Linked DNA regions of Homo sapiens: region 2 is linked to region 1. Evidence: fine-mapped expression QTL. A gene starts in region 1. The other region holds a variant in brackets. All regions are shown on one strand. Distances are between the middles of the regions. Region 1 holds the start of PLEKHH1 (pleckstrin homology, MyTH4 and FERM domain containing H1). Region 2 overlaps PLEKHH1 (pleckstrin homology, MyTH4 and FERM domain containing H1).

The links.
Region 2: its variant is fine-mapped to the expression of PLEKHH1 in transverse colon (GTEx, PIP 0.90).

Annotation. Positions count from the first base shown.
Region 1 is chr14:67,531,102-67,536,472 of GRCh38, forward strand. PLEKHH1 (pleckstrin homology, MyTH4 and FERM domain containing H1) reads left to right here and starts at 2,189. Exons shown (of 29, transcript NM_020715.3): 1 at 2,189-2,297. It also overlaps a transcript of GPHN not described here and a transcript of TMEM229B not described here. RefSeq lists a silencer at 1,813-2,282.
Region 2 is chr14:67,572,670-67,578,040 of GRCh38, forward strand. It overlaps PLEKHH1 (pleckstrin homology, MyTH4 and FERM domain containing H1), which reads left to right. Exons shown (of 29, transcript NM_020715.3): 12 at 607-717; 13 at 1,132-1,218; 14 at 1,573-1,734; 15 at 2,723-2,803; 16 at 3,154-3,336; 17 at 3,726-3,834; 18 at 4,633-4,745; 19 at 5,354-5,371. It also overlaps a transcript of GPHN not described here. Among named protein-coding and RNA genes, the nearest start is that of PIGH, 25 kb to the right of the region's middle. The variant A/G (reference allele first, on the strand shown) is at 3,188.

The DNA.
Region 1 (5,371 bases):
TTGTAATAATAAGCTAATATCCAAAGAAAGGGGCTCTAGGGGTGATGGTGGGTATTATAGTCCCAGCTACCTGGGAGGCTGAGGCAGAAGGACTGCTTGAGCCTAGGAGTTCTGGGCTGCAATGAGCTATGATTGCCACTGCATTCTAGCTTAGGCAACAGAGCAAGATCTTATCTCTTAAAAGAAAACAACAACAACAACAAAAGTTGTAACTTGCCCAAGTCACATAGCTAAAAAGTGGAAGAGACATAACTGAAACTCAAGCCTCCTAAATTCCTAATGTAGGGTTCAGTCCACCTCTACCACCCTCCCACAGACTGCCAAGGGGTCCTGCTCAGAGTTGGGCAATGGTGAGATGCACTCTATGGCCCCAAACTCATTGAAAGTAACAACTGAGCTGAAAAAAATGTGGAGTCTCTTCTGCCCTCTACAGAAGTAACCAGCTATAGGGGAGAGCATGCTCCTCCCATTCCACTCTCCATGGTGCGTCTCTTTTCACTATATAACAAAGTTATATTAAATGAGTTCTGGGCCGAGGTGCGGTGGCTCATCCCTGTAATCCCAGCACTTTGGGAGGCCGAGGCAGGAGGATTTCTTGAGTCCAGGAGTTTGAGACCCCACCTCTACTAAAAAAAAAAAAAAATTTTTTTTTTTTTTTTTGCTGGGTATAGTAGCATGTGCCTATAGTCCCAGCTGTTCATGAGGCTGAGATGGGAGGATTGCTTGAGCCCAGGAGTTCAAGTTACAGTGAGCTATGATTGTGCCACTGCAATCCAGCCTGGAGAACAGAACAAGAAGAACCTATGTCCAAAAAAAAAAAAAAAAAAAAAGTGAATGAATGAATTAATGTCTTCTTAGCAAAATCCAGAGAACGTGTTTTTGGGCTTCCTTATGCAACTTCTGGAATGTTGAAGTGGATAGCCTGAGCATTGTCCCACAAAATGGGGCTAATCTATCCCAATCCCCACGAGCTATAAAGCTGTTTGCAAGTTCAGCCATTGAAGTCCCATTGGCCCAGTTAAATTCTCACGTTTGGCCTCCTGCACTACCAGCTTTCCTTAGTGTCTGGGCTCTCAAAACTTCTACGTGAGAATGGCCTGGGGTACTTTAGTTAGAGATTCAGATTCAAACCCAGGGTGGGGGTGTTCTTCATGGTGCCTGGGATGAGTCTTCCAAGGACCATTTGGAGAAACAGGCGCTGATGGTATTTTGCTTCTGTTCAGTCCTTCACTGACAGAGAGCCTGCAGGGTTGAGGAAGAAGGCTCTGTTTTGAAGTGTGGATCCCTCCCTGCAATGGTCTCTATTTGCATCTTCTTTACTCCAGGCTCACCTAGCCAAATGTTGAGTTTTCCAACCCCTCTGGGTATGAGATTGCTTTGGGCGATCTGAGATCTGCAAATGTCTGAGAACGAGGAGCACATGGGCACGCTGATGACTGCCCTGCAAACTGCCTGGCAGCCAGGGTCCTCCTGGGCCCTCCTTTAAAATAACATATACATAAGCCGGCCTGGAGGCCCAGGCGGGAAGATCACTTGAGCTCCGGAGTTCGAGTCCAGCCTGGGCAACATAGCGAGACCAGAAAATAAGCAAGTAAGTTACTCTCTGGGCTGTCGTAACTTATTTTTTCTTTTTCTCCTGCAAATTGCAACTCAGAACATTTGGTCTGCCAGACTGAAATATGGACTTCTGTTCCAAATATCCAGACGTTACAGTTCCCACAGGTGGCCAGGAGAATGCTGGAACCTTTGGCGGAGACGGTCTGGTCTTGTCCCGCAGCCCGCGAGGGTCCCCCGCTATTTGGGGTCAAGCAGATCCCCGGGGCGCTCTGGCCACCCCTTGCGGCAGCTGGTGCGGCCTCCTCGGAGAGCTCCGGGCCGGCGCCCGGGACACCCCGCCGCCCTCCCTGCCGCCCCAGGGACGAGCCCAGCGGTGCGGAGAAGTGGGAGGCTGGAGCCTGCTGAGGTCATTTCCTGTGCCTCTCCGCGAGCTGCCTGGAGAGCTGAGCCCAGCGCTCTGCCTTTAAGGAGCGGGCGGGGAGCCGAGGGGAGGAGGGCGCCCGGCGGAGCGTTGAATGGGGCGCAGCAAGGCTCGGCCGGGCTTTGTGCAGCGAGCCCGCGGGCACCCCTCCCGCTCCAGCCTCGCCCCGCCCCGCAGCCCACGACCCCTGCTGCCGGGGAGGGGAGAACCGGCGGCAGCCCGGGACTCCGGCGAGAGCGACGCAAGGTCGGCTGCGGCGGCGGCCCGAGGGCGCCCGTGTGCCCAGTGCGCGGCGGGGACGGCCGCGAGCTCGCTGGAGGTGAGCGACCCGCGCTCCCGCCGCTGTGGTGGGCTGGGGCTGCGCCGCGGCGGAGGGCGTCAGGCTGCGCGCGGGGGACGGCCCCTCGGGCCCAGAGGACGATCCGGAGCAGGTGCCTCCCTACCTGGAAGCGAGCTCCCAGCGGCGGGGAGCGCTGGAGCGCGGGTCTGGCTTGGGAAGCCGGGCGCCCCAGGGGACTCGCGCCGCGAGGCCAGGAGGAGCCTCCCCCGGGAGTACCTGGACTTGGGGATCGGTCAGATCCAGCCGCTCCTGGGAAGGGCCCTCGGAGCGGACGTGCAGGCTGCCACCTTGCTATCGGTGCTCGCTCCCTTTCACCCCTTCCCGCACCCCTCCCCATCTCACCTCAGGTTATTTCTTCTGTGATTTCTGAGTGTTGTCTTTGGGACCCTATGGCTCAGGCTCGACTCCTAGGAGCAGGTCATTCAAGCAGAAAAGAAAACAGGTTGGGCGCCGAATGACACAGAGCATTGTGTCCTAGGAGTCTTAGCGAGGACTCGGTCACCAGGAACCAGGGGCCTTAGTGGGGGTGGCAGAGGCGGTGAAGAGCCTCATCTGGAAGGAAACTCCTCTCCTTGTGGGATTTCTGCTTGCCAGGATATCTCCTCCATAGCTTTTACTATGAATCCACCTCATAAAACTCTTCCAAGACAGAGCCTTGGTTCAGGTAAAACACTTGAAAGACCATTTAAAAAATTCAGTGGGAGAATTATCAGTTCCTTCATCAAACTGTTTGGACTGTCTTCTATGTGACAGACACTGTGTATAGGGCTAGTACCATCACTGAACGCTTTATAGAACATCGGTATTAGTGTTTCTGCATATTATTGGCCCCATTTTTCCAAAGGAGGAAGCTGGGACTCTGAAAAGTTGTGATTTAGGCCAGTTGCAGTGGCTTATGCCTGTAATCCCAGCACTTTGGGAAGCCAAGGCAGGAGGAGAGCTTGATGCCAGGAGTTCAAGACCAGCCTGGGCAACATAGGGAGACCCTGTGTCTACAAATAAATAAAAATTTAAAAATTAGCTGGGTGTGGTGGTGTGGGCCTGTAGTCCCAGCTAACTTGGGAGGCTGATGATCCTGTCTGTTAAAAAAAAAATTGTTGTGATATGCCCATGGTCACATAGCTAAAAAGTGGAAGAGCCATAACTGAAACCCAAGCCTCCTAAATTCCTAACGTATGGTTCAGTCCACTTCTACCACCTTCCCATAGACTGCTGAGGGGGCCTGCTCAGAGTTGGGCAATTGTGGGGTGCAGCCTGTGGCCCCAAACTCATTGAAACTAACAACTAAGCTGAAAAAATGTGGAGCCTCTTCTGCCCTCTTCAGAAGTCACCAGCTGTAGGGGAGAGCATGTTCCTCCCATTCCTGATAGAAAAAAAAAAATCCAAAGAAATGTCTGGCAATTTAAAGTGTACATCATTTACCCCTAAATTCCATTTTCTGGGACTTTATCCTTCAGATATACTCTGATGTATATGAAATGGTGTACATCATTGAATATTCATTGCAGCATTGTTTAGCAAAAGGTTGGAAACAATCTAGATGTCCATCAATAAGGAACCCTTCAATAAGATCATGTAAAAGCCACACGATAGGATACATTAAAGCTGTTATAAAGCGTGCAGAGAAAATGTGGCAGATATATACTTTGATGTAGGAATATCTCTAAGTTATATTGTTGAGTACAGTGTGTATGGTGGGCCACGATTTTTGGGTGGGTGTGTGAATGCCACATACATATGAATGCCTGTAGATGCTCTGAATATCTCTGAGAGAACACACAGAAACCTGTAACAGTGGTTGCCGCTGGGGAGAACTATGGCTGAAGTACAGGCATGGGAAGAAGCCTTACTTTGCACTATATACCCTTTTGTTCAATGTTCTAAAATAACTTTAAAAATCATATGACCTCCTCTCCAGATCTCCAGAGTTAGATCTGGTAGTGAGCACATCTTTTTTTTTTTTTTTTTTTTTTTTTTTTGAGCCAGAGTCTCGCTCTGTTGCCCAGGCTGGAGTGCAGTGGTGCAATCTCAGCTCACTACAACCTCCGCCTCCAGGGTTCAAGCAGTTCACCTGCCTTAGCCTCCCAAGTGGCTGGGATTAACAGGCATGCGCCACCACACCTGGCTAATTTTTGTATTTTTAGTAGAGACAGGGTTTCACCATGTTGGCCAGTCTGGTTGAACTCCTGACCTCAGGTAAGCCGCCTGCCTCCACCTCCCAAAGTGCTGGGATTACAGGCTTGAGCCACCGTGCCCAGCCTCGTGAGCACATCTTTGGGCCACATCTCCTTTTATGTTCTAGATGCTATTGGTTTGCCTTTGTTTGCTGATTACAACAATAACAGTCATTTATTGAGTACTTAGTGTGCACCAGGCTTTTGTAATATCTCCTTTAATTCTCAAAAAGCCCTGCATGATGTGATATATGAAATGGCCATTTTGAAGGTTGGAAAATGGTTAAATGACGGTTTCATATGGTTCAACCAAATATTATTGTCCTGATTTTCAAATATTACTGCCCTCAATTTCAGAATGGAACTGAGTCTCAAAGAAGTTAAGCAAATGGCTTAAGGCCACAGGATTATTTAGTGCCTGAGCTCGTATTCAAACCCAGGCCTGTCAGTGCCAGAGCATGGGATCTTAGGTACTAAGCTGTTTCTCTTTGCTGTTTTTGTTCTCAAGGAATGTTGTACCTGGTTGTCCTGACCACTTCTTTTGGTATTGAGGTTCCTGCGGCCTAGGACATGCTCACCTTCTCTGTCTCCCCGGACATTGTGTGGAATGTCATGTAGGCACCCAGCAGTGGCCAAATGGATGTTGTTAGCTTGATCAGATGACAGTGCTGAGATCAGAGGAAGTTGTCCCTGTGTACACTCACACCCTTCTCCCAGCCTCATCCCCAGAAACGGGACACAAAGCTGTTTCTCTCCCACAATTGACAAGTAGTCAGCCACGTCTGGCAGAGCACTTTTAGAAGATGGTGGTAGCCCCTCACTAGCAAGTGGAAGTCATACAGATACTCACACTCAGGGAATGAACCATACTGAGGCAAT
Region 2 (5,371 bases), 42 kb after region 1:
TCCTCTTGGGGTCATTAGCCCATCTTATGGATGAGAAGCCTGAGGCTCCAAGCTGTGCCACTACATGCCAGGGCTAGCATCCACTCCCGATGTAATTCCGCATCCCTCGCCCCACACCTCTCTGCTGCCCCATCATCTCCCTGGCTCCATGACCCTCCAGTCCTGCCTGGCTGATGTGTCCAGGTTGCCCAGACCTGCCTTGCCCTCTCCCTGCTCTGTGCTGCCTGGAATGGTCTTCTTCCTCCTCTCAGTCTTTGAGGGAGAGGCTGAACTATCCTAACAAGGCCAGCTCAGGGCCGGCTCTCTCCTGACGCTCTCCCTGGCCAGGCTCTCCCTCTAGCAGCCCCTGCTCTGCTACCTTCTCATAGTGAGGTCTTCCCCAGCTAGCATGGGAGCCCTTCCTTGGCAGGACCACCCATGTTTTATTTAGTCCTCTCTGAACCATAGCAGGGCATGGTACTCTGAAAATACACTGAGTAGGTACTCAATAATTTTGTATTTAATTGATGACCGAGTAGTGAGGCAGCTGGACCACTTGGACCTGTGTGATGTCTAGGAGCCCTGAGTGATTTCCCCTTTCTTCATCTACACCCTTCCACCCCTCAGGAGTCACTGGAGAAGTCGGGCTACCTGCTGAAAATGGGGAGCCAGGTGAAGACGTGGAAGAGGCGCTGGTTTGTCCTGAGACAGGGACAGATTATGTACTACAAGTCCCCGGTGAGAGTCTCCCCGCCCAGCACTGCAGTCAAAAGGTCTCCACATCACACCCTGGACTATGTCAGATGGGACGGAGGAGGGGGAATGTGGCCCAAGGCCAGAGGGCAAAGGTCTGGCAGGTGGGGAGAGGCAACCTCACTGGGCCCCTGAGGCTTTGAGCCACACTTGGGGACCTAAGCCTGGCCGTGAGTTTCAGAATGAAATAGGGAGGTTCTCAGAAGGACCCATGTTCCTGATTAAGGTTCCATTTAGCTATAACCAGAATCTAGAATAAGTCACCCATCATAACACAGCCAGAATGCTGGGAATCATGTTTCCCTTTGCTTATGACGTGGAGGAAGATCTGAGGGTAAATGAGGTGCTCCGGAAAGGCTCCACATTCAGTGGCTCTCCTCTCCAATACTTTCTTTACAGAGTGATGTCATCCGGAAACCTCAAGGCCAAGTGGATCTGAACTCCCGCTGCCAAATTGTTCGAGGGGAGGGTTCACAGACGTTTCAGGTGAGCACGCTCCTGGCTGCTAGTATTTTAAACAGAAGAGGTGCTGGGTTTGGATATGGCCGTGAGTGAGACAAAGATGGGGCCAAATGAGCATGAATGAAAGACTTCAGATCAACATTTGGACGTGATCCTAACTTGTGAGTACAAGAAAGGAAGATGAGACAGAATATGAGAGATGGAGTGAAGGAAGGAGAGACAGGGAGGAAAAGATGAGGAGGAAAAGAAAGGAGGGAGCACTAGGGCAGGCAGAAGGCCAGCCCCTTGGGTTCAGGGACAGGTGCCACCTCGGAGCCAGGTCCTGGTTACTCCATTCTCCCAGCGTGCTGCCCCACCCCCATATCTCGCCCTCCACAGCTCATCTCTGAGAAGAAAACCTACTACCTGACGGCCGATTCACCCAGCCTGCTGGAGGAGTGGATCCGAGTACTCCAGAGCCTGCTGAAGGTGCAGGCCACCGGGCCTCCAGCTCTGCTTCGGGGTGGCACCAAGCCCACCGTGAAGGGCTGGCTGACCAAGGTAGAGGGTGGGGCTGATAGGGCAGGAACATGTGCCTCCTGCGAATCAGGGGAGCCAGGATTGGGGTGCCGAGGGTGGTGGGTTCCCCCTTATACGGGGCTCCTTTCTCTGGGAGCCTCCTCACAGTGACTCGCTGGCCAGCCCTCAAACGTGGTCTGGCCACACAAGGTGATGGCGAGTGATTCCCCGGAAACAAATCAGGGTTGTTGGAACAACTATTCTCAAGAAAGAGAAGGGAAGGGACTATCTTGTATCCATTTTGAGGTCATTAGGGGCTGTCACCCACCCCCACCTTATACCTGCCTCAGTGTTAATAGTGGGAGGAAGAGGCCTGGGCGAGGTAGGTATGGCTCCTCAAAGACTTAAAGTATCCCAGGCCTGCCCTAAAGACATTTTTGTTAGGGCTCTTCTGGTTGAACAGAGCAGAGAAGCAGTTGTTAAACCCAAGAAAATGGAAGTTAACAAGGAAGTACATTAGCTAGACCAGAACACCAGCAGGAACCAAAGCGACTTGCACTCAGCAAGCTCAGGGCTGGCAGGCTCGCTGTGTGGCTCTGCTTCTCGTTCAATCTGTTTATGTCATTCTCCTTCGCCCGTGTGCAGCTTCTGTTCCTTCATGATGCATGGTTGCCCAAGGGCTTCAGCCTGCTGTTTTCCCTCCCTCCCTCCCGGCACCCTGACAACTGTGGCTTCTGCCACCTAGCAAGTTCTTCCTATTTTCATATGCCTGGAGGGGACATCTGATTGGCCTGGCTAATCGTTTCATGGCAGGTCATAGGTCACTGAATAGCCCATGATGGCTGGGGTGCCACAGGGTGTCATGGCACCCTCACTGTGAAAGGGGTGGTTCCATTAGTAGGGAGCCCAAATGGCATCTCCATCTCTACCATAGGTCAAATCTGTCTCCCTGTGGCTTCTATTTGCCAGTCCTGGATTTACTTCTAGAGTTACCTAGTTCTCATAATGCCAGTTCATTTCTGTCTTACAGGTAAAGCATGGCCACTCCAAGGTGGTCTGGTGCGCTCTTGTTGGGAAAATCTTCTACTACTATCGGAGCCATGAGGACAAGGTACTTCTCAGCCTCCTCACAATACCCACTCTCCTGCTTCCCCCGAAGCACATGACTGCCACTCTATGTCCTGATGAAAGTCCCTACCCCACGTAACCCCACAATAAATACAAAATCAGTTGGCTGGATCCCTCCAGAGTGTGAGATTCTGCCTGTCTGGGTCTCTGGTGCTTCTCCAAGCAAGCCTCATTCTGCTGCCAGCCTGGCTGGGATGCTATAGTCTCCACCTCCCCATCCTGTCATCGGTCCATATCCACGATTCCCAGCTTCACGGAGCCTATGTATTCAGAGAGAGGAGACTCCCTCATCCCCCACTGGCTCTCCCATTCATGGAAGACTGCTGTCCACAGCGACCCCTGGGCTGCCTGCCTGTGCGGGATGCGC[A/G]CATAGAGGAAGTAGATCGATCCTGTGACTCAGACGAGGACTATGAGGCTGGAGGAACCAGACGGTTGCTTTCCTCCCACTGCACCCTGGTGATCCACCCCACAGAGCACAGCCCCACCTACCTCCTCATTGGCACCAAGCATGAAAAGGTAAGGAAGAGGGCTGGGCCTCCAGGGCCAAGCTTGGACCTGTGATTCTGATCTTCCCTTCTCTCTTTCTCCTGAGCTTCCCAAAATTCAAATTTATTTCCTTTTGGACACTTTGGCAACTAATATTCTCTGAATGGGAATATTCCTTTATACTGAATTTATTCCCAGTGACCAACATTGCTTCACTGAGGTCATGTAATAGAATCGCAAATTTGGAAAGTTGGGTTCATGTTCACCTGATCCTCAGTCTTTCCAGGTAGCCCTGACTCATGCCAACCAAACTAGCTGAACCCCACATGGGCTTGGTCCCTTCAAGGAGTCCTCCTTGGAGCTCTTGCCTCCACTCTTCCCACCCCGTCCCCATCCGATGGCTTTCCGCCCTCTTCCAGGATACGTGGCTCTACCACCTCACAGTGGCTGCAGGTGGCAGCAGTGCCAAGGTGGGCACTGCCTATGAGCAGCTCATTGGAAAACTGATGGATGGTGAAGGAGATCCAGGTAAGGCAAGGGTGGCCACCACTGCTTGGGTTGGAGGGTAGTGGCTTGGTGACTATTGGTCAAGATCCCAAAGAAAGCAGTGTTGTACCCTGAAGCTGTTTTTAAAACATCTAAGCCACAGAGGGGAAGTTCCCATCCAAGCTCCAGGGCCCCTCTGTCTCCGGCTGAGATACTAAGGTGACCACTCTGCATCTGGGGGAGTTTATCTGGGAAGCAGGCTTTCCAGGGACCTGGGTAAATGTTTTACTTGGATCAAGCTGCCCCGTTGCTGGCTGGGCAGAGGGCTGAGGAAAGAAGGTAGCTGGTTAATCTATAGTTAGAGTTTGTAAATCAACAAGTGAAGCCTAAATTGGGATCGGACTAACCTGTTTGGAGTCTTTCTTTTGCTACTGATTATCAGGGCCCTGAGGAACTAATTAATGGCATATACCACACACACCCCTTTACTACTGCTCTGAGGCTTGTTTGTTTCTGACCAATTCATATGCCCCTCCATCCAGACTTGACACAGTAAGAAAGAGGCCTCCCCTGCACACATCCACCTGCACTCAGACACCCACAACCTTGCACACTCACCCCTACTGCCATTCCACGAGAAAGGCCATGCTTATATGAGGGTGCTCATTGCAGTGCCCACCTGTACACCCCACACTCTATGGATGATAAACCCAGCACAACCCAAGTGTTGACGGAAGATAAACCACTATCTTCCCCATAAATTAAAGATGGCGGTGAGTGGGAGATGAGTCCCCTCTCAGTAGTAACTGCCCTTGCTCTCTGGTTCCGTGCTTTGGGCAGATTCGCCGCTCTGGAGGCACCCCATGCTGTGCTACAGCAAAGACGGCCTATACGCCTCCCTCACCACCCTGCCCTCTGAGGCCTTGCAGACGGAGGCCCTCAAGCTCTTCAAGGTAAATTGGGGTGGCGGCCAGGCCCACCGCTGGGATACTTGCAATACTTGGGTGGAGAAGGCCTGTGCAGTTGGGGACAACCCACAGAGGGATCTGGAGAGGAAGGGAAGGAAACTTCCCAGGGTCCCTATCACTTCCTGGATGGCAGGAATGTAATCCTGTCACTGGGAGGGAAGCAGCTCTGGAACGTCATGCACAAGTCCTTGGGAAATGCCAATGAAAACTCTCCCTGGAGGAGCTCCCCTCCTCCTGTAGTTAAGCAGAAAAGGCGAGGTTTATGTTGCTTCTGGACTGAGAGATTCGGACCTATTTTAGCATGTCCTTTGTGAATGTTTGAGTTTTCTGTTTTTGTTTTTGTTTTTTTTAAGGAATTTGTCTTGTTTATGTAATGTAATGAGAACATTTTAAAAAGGAAACTTCTATCCCAAAGTAGCCCATAGCCCCTTTTAGTAAGCAGAGATGCCCTCCAACAGTAGCAGTGCTCCCTCTTAGAAAGGGCTGTCAGTAAACTCTAACCTCCCTGGAGCCCTTGGAAAATGGCCAAGCCGTTGAGTTCTCTGAACCCAGGGGATGCTGGTCTGCCTGTGCTCACTGCTGTTCCCTCCCAGTCCTGCCAGCTCTTCATC